2 separate regions of the Homo sapiens genome follow, and region 2 is linked to region 1. The links come from fine-mapping of genetic effects on gene expression. Tissue or cell type: whole blood. Region 1 holds a variant in brackets; the other region holds the start of a gene. All regions are shown on one strand. Distances are from middle to middle.

Region 1 (8,182 bases):
GCTTTACCATGAGACCCATGGGAGATAGTGTAGCAATTCTACCCTGCACCCTGAGGTGGAAGAGATGAGGACACCAGAGTATTACCTTCTGAGGGTTGGCTGCATCCTGCCCTGCCTAGTGCTTCTCTGACAACCACAGCTACTCTCTCCAGGCTCTTCCCTCCCCTTTAAACTGAGGGGAGGTAATGGCTCCTCTGTGTTGCCAGCCCCCGGATGCTGCACCAACTCTTCTGGGTCTCCTTAACCCTGCTCACACCCTTGTAAATGCTCCCTATAATAAACTCTCCTCGGTTATCCCCGTTCAGGGCACCATCTGTTTCCTTCCAGGACGAGCACTCATATAAGTCGACAATGCATCTGCATTCTAGAAAATAATTCAGTGTTCCAGACAAGAATATTGTTGATTTTTGAAGAAATTTCCCATACCTACACTAAAGGAACACCAAATTTATTACTGTATCAGTGAGGTGAGTTAACATAAAACAATAAGTTGACTACTAAGAAATGTAAATGGCTAATAAACTGAAAAATCAGCTCAACTGTAATGAAATAAGTCACAAATAAATAAAAAAAGAGTTCTAATTTTTACCTTCTCAAACCCTGTTGTGGAGATGCTAAGTGGGTTCCTTAGGGAAATGCATCAAGAGCCTTAAACATTTTTATTCTTATGAGTCAAACAACTCTTTTGTGAAGTGTTCACTTAGGGAAGTACTCAGAGATGTAAAGATCTATGGACAAAGATGTACATCTCAGGGTTGTTCAATAGTGACGAATTGGGAACAATGTACATGTGCTACAGAGGAAGGTTGGCTTAAGAAACCATGCTCCATGTAGAAGTAAAGTGGTTAAGCACATAGTCTCTGGCATCAAACCATCTGGTTACACATTGTGCCATGGTGTGTGTCATCTAACCCTCGCCATGGAAGCTGTGCTTGGCAGGAGACACCTAGGAAGTGCTCAATGAACATGAAATTTATAGATAAAAAGTTATTTTCTAGGAAGGCCCCTCTACAGCCATTAGGTGGATGCTTCTGAAGCATATTTAATGATATGTAAAATTATTTGTGGCATAACATAAAATAAGGATAAATAAAAGAATAATTTAGAATTTAGATATAGAATAATCCTCATTATTTCAGCATGAAGGTATGCTAAAATGATATGAGCCTTTAGATCTAGATGGTATGATTACTGTTGATTTTGATTTTCTTTAGTTTTCAAATTATTTAAGATTGATTATTAACCTACTCCTTTTCCTCTTTCTCTCTCTTACTATGGAGACACAGATGACACCATAATAAGACAAAACGAAGTGGTCTACAATCCCATTTCCCAGATATCTTTTTGACACATACACATGCACACACACACACACACACACAATTTAAAACAGCTCAAAAACAAAATCCAAAATCTTCCTTCTCACCTACAATCTTCCCAGATGAAACCATTGGTAATAAATCCTTTGATTCATTGCAGAAGAAAGGATGTGCACATACCAGCAGATCCAAGTTCTTTTCAAATAAGCTTGTATTGATTTTATAATCAGAAAATTGTAGCATGTACACATTTAAAATGTGGGCATTTTTATTGTCAATCTCTTGAGGAACAGGCTTGGGTCAAATGGCCTGTCCTTGTCCCATTGGGGGAGGATCAGGAGCATAGGCACTACCTGTGGGGGAAGGGGGACAGAATCGGTTTTGTGGTCATTGGCCTGGGATGGGGAGGGGCTCTAAAATGCACACCTCTTGTTGGTCCTTGGTTTCCTCATCATTGGAATGGGACAGATCTTGAACACTGCACACCTTACTTACTTTGGGACAATAACCAGCATTAAGACACTAATGTTGATCCCCGAGATCAAGTATTGCTGGTCTCTGCTGGGCCTCCAGGAGCATTGCTACGAGCCATGTTTCTATGTCCTTGAAAACATCCGTCTTCAGTTTTTCCAAGGACCTCAACTCTCTTGATTTATCCAGTTCCCCAAACCCCCACCATCTGGATCCAGCTTCCGCACCCTTCCTCGGAACCAAACTGAGCACATTTTGTTTTCTTTTGCTCTTCCCTGTCTTCTCTAGTTCTACCCTAACTTCCCTAGAATTTAGGTCATTGATTGCACAAAAAAACAAAACAAAAAAAAGACAAAAAAAAAAAAAACCCAAAAAAAACAGGGAACCATGGGGTTGAACACTCATATTGGGCAATGCATATAAGGTTCATAAAATTAACTGGAAGCTGTCTCTTGATGCAGTTCCCTACTCATTGAACTCATGTGACTTGAATAAATCACTAAGACTCTTGATGTTCTGTTTTGTTCTTTGTGCAAAAAGAGAACACTCTATTGTCTTTGGTTCACAGTGGTCAACTCTAGAGAGTCTTCCATCTCCTGAGTACAGGGGAGAGGCATAATGGGCAGTCCACAGCAGCACTGAATCCAGGAGTCCCTGACTCATGGGAAGGGTTGAGGAATTTCTCAGGACCTGGGGTTAAATGGCAGCAGCAGTCTGTCCCATGGCCTCATTTTGGACGCAATGCCAAGCTTTCATCCACAAACTCACAAGTTCATGCTTTTATTTAGAGTGTGGGCATAGCACGGATTCAGGGTCAGAAAGGTCGAGTTGGATCTTTCTTGCTCTTTATTTACCTGCTAAATGACCTTATAAAGGTCCTCATGTTGTCAAGTCTCAGTGTATTCTTCTGTTACATGGGTCTAATCTTCCTTTCTTCTTTAGACAGCTGTTGTGACAGTAAAGTGAGACCCTTGTAGCAAAAGCACTTTTCGGACTCCATGATGTTAGGAAACTGCAAAACACCTTCTTCTGAGTCCAGAGACTGGAAAATGAACTCTTGTGTGGTGAGAATGAAAAGATCCCTTTCTTTTATTTATTTAGCACACATGAAACATGTATATGTATTCATTATACGCCAGGGACTCTTCTAAGTACTTGACAAATATTCACATATTTACATTCTCCTAATCACACGATGATAAATATACAACTGTTGTCCCTGTTTTCCAGATGAGAAAACTGTGGCACAGAAAAGTTAAGTAACTTGCCTAAAGCCACATAGCTAGTAAGTAGCAGAGCCAGGATTCAAACCTAGGCGCTATGGCTATAGAGCCCATGCTCTTCACCATTACATCATGTTAACTTCTTTGCTTGGGATGTTTGGTAGAGCAAAGATAACTTGAGAAGTACAACAGACTGATAGTGAATCTTAGTCCTGCCATTTAGCTGTGTGGCCTTGGGAAGGTTAATTAAATTCTCTGAGCCCTTACTCCCTTATCTATCAAACGAGAATACAAATGTCCATATCAGACAAGTTTTGCAAAGGTTAAATTGAGGCACATTGTCTGGCACAGGCACAATGAGGTGCACAGGTAATGTGAGTTGGATTTGTAGGCAGGGCCTTACCTGAACTCGGCCTTAGCCATTTACTTGATTATGGTTGATTCGGACTTTTCCATGCTCTGCCCACCAGCCTGCTGGGTAACCACATACTTCAGAGTGTGAAGGACCCTGCCCATACCAACTCTAACACTCTCAGGGTGTCTGCCTTGCAGATTGGGGTAGGGAAGCTCTTGTTCACATGCCTGGGCTTGTCTAACAATTACAATTTTTCAGGCCCAGGGTGTCAGCTCCCAGGCTCCTGTTTCCTTTGGGCTCCAAAGAGCAAACAGGGCCCTGCACTTCTCTGTCCACCTCCCCTTCCAAAAACTTACTGGTTAATTTTAGGGTTGGGGAGAGGCTCTGACGAGGGCCTGCCCACGTGGGGTTAAGGTTACCAGTGGCCTCTGCCTCTGGTCAGGCTCGCTGGGAACAGCCGCAGTCACTTCCCGAAGCTCAGTGGGGGCAGGAGCTCGGCCAGGGCAGTGGGCAGTGGTTGGGCACAACATTTCCAAGATGTTGGGAGCCCTGCCTCAGCAGACCAGACCCACAGCCCACATTTTTGCAAAAGAGACACTGTCTTTTATCAGGCATAGCCTGATGCAGTTATATTTTTCATATCATTTTAACTCTAGAAATGGCCCAGCATTTACTACTGCAAAAACTTAATCATGTCTGCCTTACCTGAGGCCCCTTTAAAAGATAAATGCTGACAGATTATCTCAATAATAAGGAAGAAGTCTAGTCACAGTTCTTTACTCTCCATTAAAGGTCTCGCAAACCACGTATTGATTTTTTTAAAGAAAAGAAATTGGAAGAAGCATGTACCAATTAAGAATAAAACTAACAATTTATTACCCTTAGATCTTTAAGGCAAATAGGGAGTAGAAAAACACTTGCTTTTTTTCCT[T/C]CCCTCTATTGAGACATAATAATTAGGTAACTATGTAAATAACCTTGTATTAAAACCTGAGACAGCCTGCGGTTACTCAGGCTTCTGTACTGGATCATAAAGATCAGTTACTGCTCCTGGGTTCTCTGAGTTTTGCAAAGCTTTTCTCCCTTTTCTGAAGGGCTCTTAGAAAAATTGTTTCCTTCCCTTTTCTTTTGCTTTGAGCAGGCTGATCATAAGCTCATCTTCTTACTTGTTTGTAAGTTTACTGAATGAGCTCTTGGAGTTTCTTGTTTGTTTCTGTATTCCACAAGCTTTGATTGAGCACAAACTATGTGTTTGTGTTGCTCTTTATATTAGATGATGAACACTGTTACAGAGAAACATTGAGCAGGCAAAGAGGACATTGAGAATTTCCAGGACGGTAACACTAAGATGACGACAAATTTTTCATTGAAGTAGAAACTAAAAACAAGGAAAATATTTTAGAACTGATCTGTCATGTACATGTCTGGCCAGGCCACCCCATCTTTTTTGTGTGTGCAATGATTCTCTGCCGGATAAATATTTGTTAAATATGTAAATAAATGTCTCCCTCCATCTGAAAAGTAAGCACCACCAGGGTAGGCATTTTATGTTTTTTACTGATGTATCCCACACGCTGAGAACTATACCTGACACATATCAGGCCCTCCATTAATATATGTTGAATAAACAAAGAGTTGTCCTCAGTTCATGGATTTGTCTGGCATTCAAAAAGTTTTTTCTAATACCTACTTTAAGTCAGGAATTGGCCTAGGTGCTAGGAACACAAACACGATTGGCCTGGGGCTGCCTTTTTTGATCTTTCAGACAAGGGGAGGAGAGTGAGTTGATCAAGCTAACATAATACTATGTTGTTAAGTGTTAAGCTAGGAGGATGTTGAGATACTCTCTTGCAGAATATGGTAGGATACTTCAGCAAAACCTGTGGAGTGAAAGAATCGTGCTTAGGTAAAAAAAGGATTGAGATGGAGTGAGCAATTGAGTTCCAGGAACTAGAAGAGGAGGTCTAATGATTGAAAGTGACAGAAAACAAGGAGCCAGAGAAATGGAGGCTGCTGCTAGGCCTCGGGTGAGAAGCAGGGAGTGGTGAGATGAGGCTGGAAGAACAAGCAGAGGCCGAATTGTGCAGAGCCTCACATGGGGTTCAGATTTAATTTAAAGACAGCATGAAGCCATTGATGGGTTGCCAGGGGACCAGGGAGGTCAAATTTCTGTTTTGGAAAAATCCCTCTGGTTTCTAGGTATAGGATGGATTTAAAGGAGAGAGCCCAGGCCAAGAGGCAGCTAAGAGCTTCTCCTACAACCCAGGGGAGATGTGGTGGAGACCTGGATGAGAGTGGACAGGCTGTGGGCTGGAAGAACCAGAGAGATTTATGAGAGAAAGACTAACGGGTTGGGGGTTAGAGAGAGGTCAGAGTAGTGGGCGACTCTGAGGTTTCTGGTTTGGTCAACTGGGAAGATAGTTTGAAATAGTTCAGGTGCAGTGTGGGAGAGAAAATTGACATGGAGTCCATATGTATGTCTTGGGAGACCGAGAGGTTTATGGCTCCACTGAAATAATTCTTCAGTTTACTCTGAAGACACATGAGTGAGAAGGAGGAAAAAATGCAATTTAAAAAGTTGTGTTGACATGAATGCACATCCACACCAGATATCTGGAGACAAAGGGCATGGATGGATTGATGTCCTGCATTGTGCAAACTGGTGTCTACTTTGTTCAAATTCAAGAATTTTATCCAAATTTCTATATTACCCTGGAAGAATAATTTAAAACACAGTTGGACCAGGTGCAGTGGCACACGTCTGTAATTCCAGCACTTTGGGATTGCGAGGTGGAAGAATTGCTTGAGCCCAGCAGTTCAAGAGCAGCCTGGGCAACCCCAGGCTTTTGATAGTGAGACCCCATCTCTCTCTCAAAAAACATAAAACTCTCTATATCCATAAGTTTCACATCTGTGGATTCAACCAACTGTGGATCAAAAATATTGAAAACAAATTTAAAAAAGGATGGTTGCATCTGTACTAAACATGTGTAGACATTTTTCCTTCTTATTATTCTCCAAACAATACAGTATAACAACTATTTAGATAGCATTTACCTTGTATTAGGTATAAGTAATCTAGAGAGGATTTAAAGTATATGGGAAGATGTGCATAGGTTCTATGCAAATACTATACCATTTTATATTAGAGACTTGAGCATCTGCAGATTTTGGTTTCCACAGGGTGTTCTGGAACCAATCCCCTGAGGATACTGAGGGACAACTGTATTGTCTTGGATGGTCTCTGATGCTGTAGTATCAGTCCTCTTTCCGTGGCTGAGAGTGGGGTGGGTGAGAAAGGAATTGGGCTTACTGTATTTTTCAGCACACTGAACCTTTCCTTGCTTTTTGAATCATTTCCTTTTACTCTAATAATTTTGGAAGTATAATATTATGAAGTACAATATCAATATTGCACAAGGAATAACCCCACACTTAGAATTCATTCATTCATCCATCCATCTATCTGACCACTCACCAGTAATCTTTCCTTCCTTCCTTCCTTCCTTCCTTCCTTCCTTCCTTCCTTCCTTCCTTCCTTCCTTCCTTCCTTCCTTCTCTCCTTCCTTCCTTCCTTCATCCTTTCTTCCTTCCTTCCTTCCTTCCTTCCTTCCTTCCTTCCTTCCTTCCTTCCTTCCTTCCTTCCTTCCTTCCTTCCTTCTTCCCTCCCTATCTCTCTCCCTCCCTTTTTTTTTGACAGTCTTGCTCTGTCACCCAGGCTGGAGTGCAGTGGCATGATCTTGGCTCATTGCAACCTCTGCCTCCTGGGTTCAAAGGATTTTCATGCCTCAGCCTCCCAAGTAGCTAGGATTACAGGCACCCACCACCACACCCAGCTAATTTTTGAATTTCAGAGAGATGAGGTTTCACCATGTTGGCCAGGTTGGTCTTGAACTCCTGGCCTCAAGTGATCCATCTACCTTGGCCTTCCAAAGCGCTGAGATTACAGGCATGAGCCACTGCTCCTTGCCCGAGTTTTTGATCTGTAGCTTTGAAGACTTGGCTCCAGAACTTCCCTTTGCATCCCTGCAATGTCTGGTCCATGCCTGTTTATTCCTTCCTTCTACTCCTCATCCTATGTCCCTGTTGCTCTGAACCCAGAAAACTTGGAGGCCCAACATTCCCAAAGTGCAGAGAGGGCTGCCACAGCTCCCTTGACCCACAAGATCATCGAGCTGATGCAGCAGGAGTTTATTTCACTTGACTTCAATTTAACTGTCCTGAGCCCCTTCTTTATATTGCCAAGAGATTTCCTAACAGATATGTAACCCGGCGATTCAGGCAATTATTCACGTATTCCCCCACATCATTAGTTTTATGGAACACTGCCAGGGGGCATATTTTTCTTCCCTAGGACTCCTGAGAATAAAGGAAATAGAACTCTTACCATGAAGTCATATTAAGGAGTTTATTTCTCAGAAAATACCCCATAGCACTTTTATAAAATCTTGTGCAGATAGACTGCATTTAGGAAAAGTATTATTTTTACCTCACCTGCTGCCATGAGAATTGCTGTCCAGGCCTCCTGCCTTCCAGGACATGGCTTTTTAAAAAATTCTGGGGTATCTACTGACCACAAAGGGGTGCCCATTGTTAGTGTAAGGAAGACATGGTTTAGGCTGGATCTTGTTGGGCTTGGCTAGGGTGATATAATTTAATCATCCAAACCAGGATGTACTTTTGGACAGAAGGGTGCTATTATTAATTATATTGGCATAACAGGTATAAATTAGGGCCATCCAGGCCCATTGGGACATATGATTACCCTAGACTTTGTGCTCTACTCCTCCCACTTATTGAAACTTTTCTCCATCGGC
Region 2 (8,182 bases), 230 kb before region 1:
TGGTCACATTAGAACACAGTAAAAAAAAACAGTGAAATAGTTTTAATAATAATTTCCTACCCCTAAGTGTGTGTGTGTGCTCGCGTGCACATTTCTGCATGTATTGGGGTGTTGTCCCTGGTCCCCAGGAGAGACAGCCAGGATCTTCACAGTCAGTGTAACTCTGGCTCCCTACTGGGACCCTCTGAATCTTTTGGTTGCCTAAAGACCACCAGGACCCAGAAACCCAAGAATACCTTTTTAGAAGCACTGGGTTGGAATCTGACAGCGGTTGTATGGGGCAAGGGAAAGTGGAAGTGATAGCTGCCTTTGGGAAGAGGAAAAGGAAGAGTAAGGGCAAAAAACAGAAACAAAAATCCCCCAGAAAACCCTCCTGTCTCTTTTTGGGTTCCATAGACCTTGGGAGGATCCCACGGAATGGGAGCAACATAATACTTTTCCACTGAGCCTCACAAAAGGTGGCAGAGACCTGAGGGCTCCTTGGAAAAGACAGGTGACACTACATCTGGGTGATGCAAAGGCAGAAGTCAAGCTCCTGCGGCAGGCGGGAGGTGGGGGTCCCCTGATTCAGGACCCTCCCTGGCAGAACTTGCCTCTGAGGCCCTTGAGACCACTGGCCTCTGCTTAGCGACTCCGCATAGTACGATCCGGAGCCCACCGAGCTTTGAAGCTGGAAGTTTCCCGCTCCCGCATCCCGCGTGCTGCTGCGCCTCTCCACCAACACACACGCGCGCGCAAACAGCACACGCACGAACACACCCCTCCCGCACGCCTCCAACAGCACCCATGCGTGCACAGAGACGCCTCCTCGCTCACCAACCACCTGCAACCCTCAGGGAAATAACGCCGAAGGTGAACGGCGCACCTTCGGGCTGAATGAGGATGCCAGGAATGCCGCTCTGGTTTCCAGGCGTACGGGAGGACACGCCGCCGGGCCTCTCTGGAGTTATTCCCTCGGCTGAGTGGGGGCCAACGAGGGCAGCGCGGCAAACCTCACACCTGGCGGCTGGCTGTGGGCTCCACGCTCCCTTAGGGAATAACCTCTTCTCTTACTCCTACCCCGAATGCTCCAAGGCTCTGCAGCGGCTCGGACCCTGCAGAGCTTCCTCCATCACCATTTGTAGCTAAAGAATCCCGAGGCGGTGCGTCCCAGAGGCATAGCCTCTGGCCCAACCTGGCGTGGGTAGAGAGGAGGTCACTCTTGGGTAAACACCTTAAATGGGAGTTTTGGCAACAAGCTGTTCACTAGAGGGGCTGTGGCTGCCGCAAAATCCCCGACTTTCCTTCAGTGTGCCTTGGGACTCCGTGCATTTCCTTCAGTGTGCCTTGGGACTCCGTGCACTGCTCGCGTGTCTCCTGGCCTCCCTTTACTTCTCCTCGACCCTTCACTTCTTCCACCGTTCCTTCTTTTACTTTTTTTCTTTGAGCGTGTCGGACTCCCAGTCAATAGGTATACAGCAGCAATCCCTCACCCTCCTCACCTCAACCCTGCCTACGTTTTAGGGATAGGGTGAAGACTGCGGGCACTGCTGTGTATCCATGACGGGGAGCCGAGCCTGGCATGCTGATCCAGAGACCCCAGAGATGAGAAGCGGCATCCCGCGACAGCAGTCGGAAGTTGGAGGCTATAGGGCCTGGGGCTCCAAGTCAGCGCAGCAGTAACCGGGGTGGGGGAGGCCAGGCCACGAAGTGGGGCCGGCTGCGCAGCAGCGGCCTTAACTCCTCGGCCACCTGCATGTCTCCGTCATTCACCCACAGCCTGGCAGGGGTAGGGCTGTTTCCAACATTTTTTTTTGGTGGGGTAGGTTGTGGGGTGTGCAGAGGAGGGAGTGGCTAAGCTGGGAGAGGGGCAGAGAAACGGATTTGGGTGGGGAAGTGAGCCTGGGGATGGACAGAGATACCACAGTCAAAGCCCAGGCGAAGGGAGTGACCACAACAGAGACAGAGGCACAGGGACAAAGAAGAGCGCGGTTGCCCAAAGCCCGAGTCCAAGAGACCCTGAGTCGGAGGCAGGCCGCCCGCAGGAGAAGAGGAGGTTCGGAACCGCAGACCTGGGGCCTCAGGAATCCCCAGGGCCTTAATGGGCCACGGAAGTCTTCGACGGCCAGTGTCAGGCAGAGCCGAGGGGACGTATGGGCGGGGGTGGAGTGGGTCACAGCTTGGCCTGTCCATCTTGGTGCCCGCGCAGAAGTCCACAGTGGCAGAAACACTCTGGGAGCCACAGGTCTCTTAGGACCCTGAGGGAGGGTGCTACCAGCTCTAGTCCAGTCGGGACCAAGAGAGTCAGGCGTGCTTGTCCCGCCCTGGCCGCCTGAGGCCGGAGCCATACATAGTCTGCACAGATCCGAGACACCCGGTCCCGAGTGATCTGGAAACGAGTGTGCTCTCACTGCGTTCAAACAAGACGAGGACATTTACAAGGTGCGAGTCCCCAACCCCCAGCTACTGGCAGGGGCTGCGCAGCGGCACCGCCCAGGCTCTCTCTCCAGGCGGCCGACTCATTTCTGCGGAGAGCACGCTTCTCGAAGAGGGTTGTAGACGCGCTCTTCCAGCATTTAATTTGCCACCCCACAAGATTGAGTTAAGTTTTAGTTAAAATACACTCATTTTATTAAAAATAGGCGGCCCAATACCACGCCGTACCCCAGCCTCTCCGAGGGCGCAAGAGAATAGAGAGTTTTCAGATTAATTGGAGGCAAATATTTTACCTTCTAACATTTAAAAATAATCTAGGCGCGTCTGCACCGGTGTGGCTCACGCGACCCCTACGCGCGAGGTCAGTCGGGCTGGTCCAGCGCAGACAGCGGCCGGGACTCACTCACCCAGTGCGCGCCTCTCCTGCCTTTCGCTGCGCGCGCCCAAAGCTAGAAAGAAGAAGGTGACGCGGGAGGCGGGTCGGGTCTCCGGGTCCAGCGAATTCGCGATCTATCCGGTTTCGGCGCCTGAGCCGAGGTCTCAGAAAGAACCCGTTAATTCTAGCCATCCTGGATCTGGGTAGGGAGGGTGCGCGGCTCCCAAGCCCAGTCTGGATGCCTAGTGCGGTGTGCTTCGGTCTCCCCGTCTGCCCTCCGGGGAGGTTTCTCACCCGGTGGCCCTGGGCCGCTTCACTGTGGCGCTTCCACTTTTGGCTACCGGCCTTCCTCCGCCCAGGACCTTCCGGCCCAGGGAGCAGCCGACGGGCACCCCCGAACGCTGGGGCACGGAATTTCAACGGGGCGACCAGAGCGGAGCTCGCGGCTCGAGGCTCGCGGCTGAGTACGAAGACGGGACCCGAGGACCTGTACATCGCTCGAGGGGAACCTGTCCTGGGCTCTGGTGCACACATAGTATGCGTTCTGGGCTGGCTTGGGTTGGGCCAGGTAGGGGAGACCTGGCTGGGTACGAGGCGCCGTCCAAGCCTTCCGGCCGTGGGCCGGGCGGTCGCGGCGCCTTTGCGCACAGTGGCCACTTGGGGTCGCACTTTATGCCTGTTTGAGCCTCTCCGCGGCGGGCTGACGCCGGGATCTGCTTAATCGTTACAAAACGTTCAAACAAAAACAGGGCCGGCTCCCCAGCAGTGGAGAGCTACTCGGAGCACCGTCCCGGGCCGGCCTCGGCCCCGAGGCTCCGGGGGCTCAGGATTCCGTGCGTGTGGCGGGGAAGAGGAATTCAGAGCCTTTGGGCTGCTGCTTTTCCCGTCGCCTTCACTGTGAACATTGTGCGGTGGGGTGAACGCGGGGAGCGGCGGGGCCAGTGGAGTCGAACCTCAGGGCTCTGCGACTGCACCCGCCAGGAGGGGCCCTCGCTTGGCCTGAGAAAGGTCCCCTGAGGTTAAGAGTTGGGTCTGAACACAACTCTCGGAGCCTCGAGCCCGCCCTCCCCAACATACAAATACGCGCAGATCTCCAGAAACAGGAACGCACGACACACACGGCCAGAAGCCGCGAGGACACACAGAGCGTCGCCCACTGGGCGGGGGCCGCTTGGGAACAAAGGGCCCAGGAGGCGTTGTCCCGGCGCTCATTCTGAGCCTCCTTGGGGGTGACACGGGATGGGGGTGGGGTGCAAAGGGAACTGAGGGAGGAGAGTGCGCGAGGAGGGGAAAGCGGTGATTTGGCCTAGAGGTGGGGCGCGCACTCCAGGCGAGCGTGCGTGGGCCGGGACCTGCAGGGTACGGGGGTGGGCCCAGGCTGGCCGTCCCACTCCGCTCCAGCGCTCCGCCAGGCCTCCGCCGCTCCGGGGCCGCTCGGGCCGCCAGTCAGCTGACGCGGGGGGCGGGGGAGCTGTCAGGCGCGCCCCGCCCTGCGCCGCTGGGCCGCGGAGGCCGTGCAGCTATTGGCCCGCGCACCGGGCCGCCCGGGCCCCCGCACCCCAGTGACATCAGGAGGCGATAAAAGGCTGCGGCGCCGCCGGATCCAGCACAGCTGCACCGCCGAGCTGCGAGCGGCTGCGAGCGAGAGAGCGTAAGAGCAAGAGAGCTAGAGAGCGAGCAACGGGCACTCGCCCCACGCCTCCCCTCAGCCCCACCGCGCGCTCCGCTTGCCTCTCCACCCCGCCCGACTCTACCCGGCCCGGTCCCTGCGCGGGCACAGCCCAGAGCTCTGGGGCGGTGCAGGCAGCCTCGGGACTCTCCGGCGCGCCGCCGCGTCCCCAGACAAAGGCTTGGCCGGCGGCCCCGGCCCGCTGCGCCCTCGCTCCCCGCCTCCCCAGCTCTTCTCCGCTCTTCCCCCCCGCGCTTGGCTCGGCGCGCTCCGGCCGGCCGCAAAGTTTCCCGGGCGGCAGCGGCGGCTGCGCCTCGCTTCAGCGATGGCCGCGGAGCTGAGCATGGGGCCAGAGCTGCCCACCAGCCCGCTGGCCATGGAGTATGTCAACGACTTCGACCTGCTCAAGTTCGACGTGAAGAAGGAGCCACTGGGGCGCGCGGAGCGTCCGGGCAGGCCCTGCACACGCCTGCAGCCAGCCGGCTCGGTGTCCTCCACACCGCTCAGCACTCCGTGTAGCTCCGTGCCCTCGTCGCCCAGCTTCAGCCCGACCGAACAGAAGACACACCTCGAGGATCTGTACTGGATGGCGAGCAACTACCAGCAGATGAACCCCGAGGCGCTCAACCTGACGCCCGAGGACGCGGTGGAAGCGCTCATCGGCTCGCACCCAGTGCCACAGCCGCTGCAAAGCTTCGACAGCTTTCGCGGCGCTCACCACCACCACCATCACCACCACCCTCACCCGCACCACGCGTACCCGGGCGCCGGCGTGGCCCACGACGAGCTGGGCCCGCACGCTCACCCGCACCATCACCATCATCACCAAGCGTCGCCGCCGCCGTCCAGCGCCGCTAGCCCGGCGCAACAGCTGCCCACTAGCCACCCCGGGCCCGGGCCGCACGCGACGGCCTCGGCGACGGCGGCGGGCGGCAACGGCAGCGTGGAGGACCGCTTCTCCGACGACCAGCTCGTGTCCATGTCCGTGCGCGAGCTGAACCGCCACCTGCGGGGCTTCACCAAGGACGAGGTGATCCGCCTGAAGCAGAAGCGGCGGACCCTGAAGAACCGGGGCTACGCCCAGTCTTGCAGGTATAAACGCGTCCAGCAGAAGCACCACCTGGAGAATGAGAAGACGCAGCTCATTCAGCAGGTGGAGCAGCTTAAGCAGGAGGTGTCCCGGCTGGCCCGCGAGAGAGACGCCTACAAGGTCAAGTGCGAGAAACTCGCCAACTCCGGCTTCAGGGAGGCGGGCTCCACCAGCGACAGCCCCTCCTCTCCCGAGTTCTTTCTGTGAGTCGTGGCCGGTCCTGGCCCCCGCCCTTGCCCCGGCCCGGACTCCCTGTCCCACGTCCCTAGTCCCAGACTACCCCGGACCCTGTCCCTGCCGCGGCCCCAGCCTTGACCTGTTTGACTTGAGCGAGAGGGAGGAAGGGCGCGCGGGCCGCGGGCGACGGGCGGGTGCGCGGGCGGGCAGGGGACCTTGGCTAAGGCGAGAGTAGCGCACGCCAGCGCCGCCTCCTAGACTCGAGCAGAGCCGGAGAGAGAGACGAGAGGGTGGGAGGTCCCGGAGTAACTTCTCTCCAGGCTGAAGGGCGGCGAGGCATAGTCCCGAGAAGTCACCAAGGCCATCTGGAGACTCCTGGCTTTCTGAACTTTGCGCGTTAAGCCGGGACAGCTGCTTTGCTGCCCGGAGAGTAGTCCGCGCCAGGAAGAGAGCAACGAGGAAAGGAGAGGGACTCTGGCGTCCCGGCAGGCGAGAGGCGAGGCTGAGCGAAAGAAGGAAGGACAGACGGACCTGTCTGTCAGAGTTCGGAGAACACTGGCTCTCAGCCCTGAGACACAGGCCTCAGTTAGGACGCTCGGCGCCCAAATCTCATCAGTTTTATTGCCTGCTCGATTATATAGAAAAATACAAAAAATCTGCATTAAAAATATTAATCCTGCATGCTGGACATGTATGGTAATAATTTCTATTTTGTACCATTTTCTTGTTTAACTTTAGCATGTTGTTGATCATGGATCATACTCCCCTTGTTTCTTTGGGTGAGAAGGGATCGCAGTTTGGAAACTCCGGCGGCTGCGTGCGGGGTTTCAGTCCCAGCTGTAGGCTTGTAAATACCCGCCCCGCCAAACCGCATAGAGAACGTGGCAGCAAGCTGAGGGTCTTTGTTTGGGTTTATTATTACGGTATTTTTGTTTGTAAGTTAAAAAGAAAAAAAAAAAGAAAAAGTTCCGGGCATTTTGCATCAGAAAACAACTTTGTCTTGGGGCACACTTGGAAGTTGCATGTTTTCTTTCCTTCCCTTATCCCCATTCGGTCCTCTTTTTCCTCTCTCGCTTTAGTTTTCAACCTTGTTGGTGCTGAGAGAGAGAACCGAGAGGTCCCAGTACAAGGGCAGGGCAGGGCAGGGAAGCTGCCAAGCTCCGCACCCCAGAGGAGTGTTCTGGACTACAGCCTTGTCTTATGGTCAAATTGATACCCTTAATAAGAAAGGAAAGGAAAGGAAAACAGATCCTCCCCTCTGCTTTTTATTGTAACCAGAATCACCCTGAGGTCCCTTCTGAACCCTCTGGGCCTGCGCTAATTGTAGGAGCCACAGCGCTCCTAGGGTGAGAGGCTTAGCCATCCCTGACCCTGGCAGTGCACTGGTAAGCAGACACTGCACTGAACCAACTGCTATGCTCAGAATGTACCAGAAACCCAAACATTGGCAAGTAATTTTGCAACTTTCAAGTGCGTTCTTTAGACCAATGCATTGCGTTTCTTTCCCTGCTTTTGAGATAGTAGGAAGAGTTCTTGGTGGTGTCCCCCCCCTTCAATTCTTCAGTTGTATAGTAGTTATAGGGAAGATATGGGTGTTTTTCTTTATTATTACTTTTTTTTTTCTGCAGGTCAGTAAAAGGATTTAAGTTGCACTGACAAAAATACCAAAATAAAAGTGTATTTTTAAGTTCCCATTTGAAATTGCTGGCGCTGCTGGCCGGATGCATTTTTGAGTTTGTATTAGTTGATAAATTAACAGTAATAACAAGATTGTATGAACCGCATGGTGCTTGCAGTTTTAAATATTGTGGATATTTGTCCTGCATCAGAAACGAGCTTTGGTTTTTACAGATTCAACTGTGTTGAAATCAAACCTGCCGCAACAGAAATTGTTTTTATTTCATGTAAAATAAGGGATCAATTTCAAACCCTGCTTATGATATGAAAATATTAAAACCTAGTCTATTGTAGTTTTATTCAGACTGGTTTCTGTTTTTTGGTTATTAAAATGGTTTCCTATTTTGCTTATTAAAACCATGGAAATGGTGTTTATTTAGAGGACTCTGCGTTCGCATGATTTTGACTTTCTTCTCTTGCTTCCTCAAGAGTCGCATCAACTTTGGGTTACTCTCACCCCATGGCCAATGGAATAGCAAACCAAGCCCTAGCAAATCCCTTCCTTGAGTGTCTGAGTGTGTGTGTACATGAGCCTCAAATGTGTTCTCTGCTTCCCACCCTAGGTACAGACCCTGGTCAAGAGAGCTGGATTATGAGCTGAGAGGGCGCAGGTCCAAACAGCCTTGGAGTCCCTGGGTGTGGGGCACACGCCACTTTTTCAGTGCTTTCAGGCTTGGCCACCAGAACTGACTTGCTAGTCTGTCTGCTCTGAAATAGTGATTGATGGAGACTAGGAAGCCAAGAGCTGCCACCTTGATGGGGAAGCTGGGTCTTTTTG

Evidence for each region. PIP is the estimated chance that this variant, and not a neighbour inherited with it, causes the effect.
Region 2: it holds the start of MAFB, and the variant in region 1 is fine-mapped to the expression of MAFB in whole blood (TOPMed, PIP above 0.99).

Annotation. Positions count from the first base shown.
Region 1 is chr20:40,458,992-40,467,173 of GRCh38, reverse strand. LOC105372618 (a long non-coding RNA gene) reads left to right here. Exons shown (of 3, transcript XR_936718.3): 1 at 1-467; 2 at 2,733-2,854. Among named protein-coding and RNA genes, the nearest start is that of MAFB, 230 kb to the left of the region's middle. The variant T/C (reference allele first, on the strand shown) is at 4,300.
Region 2 is chr20:40,685,454-40,693,635 of GRCh38, reverse strand. MAFB (MAF bZIP transcription factor B) reads left to right here and starts at 4,400. Exons shown (of 1, transcript NM_005461.5): 1 at 4,400-7,788. The coding sequence starts at 4,786. The coding sequence ends at 5,757. RefSeq lists enhancers at 2,234-3,209, 3,210-4,187 and silencers at 4,138-4,447, 4,468-4,537.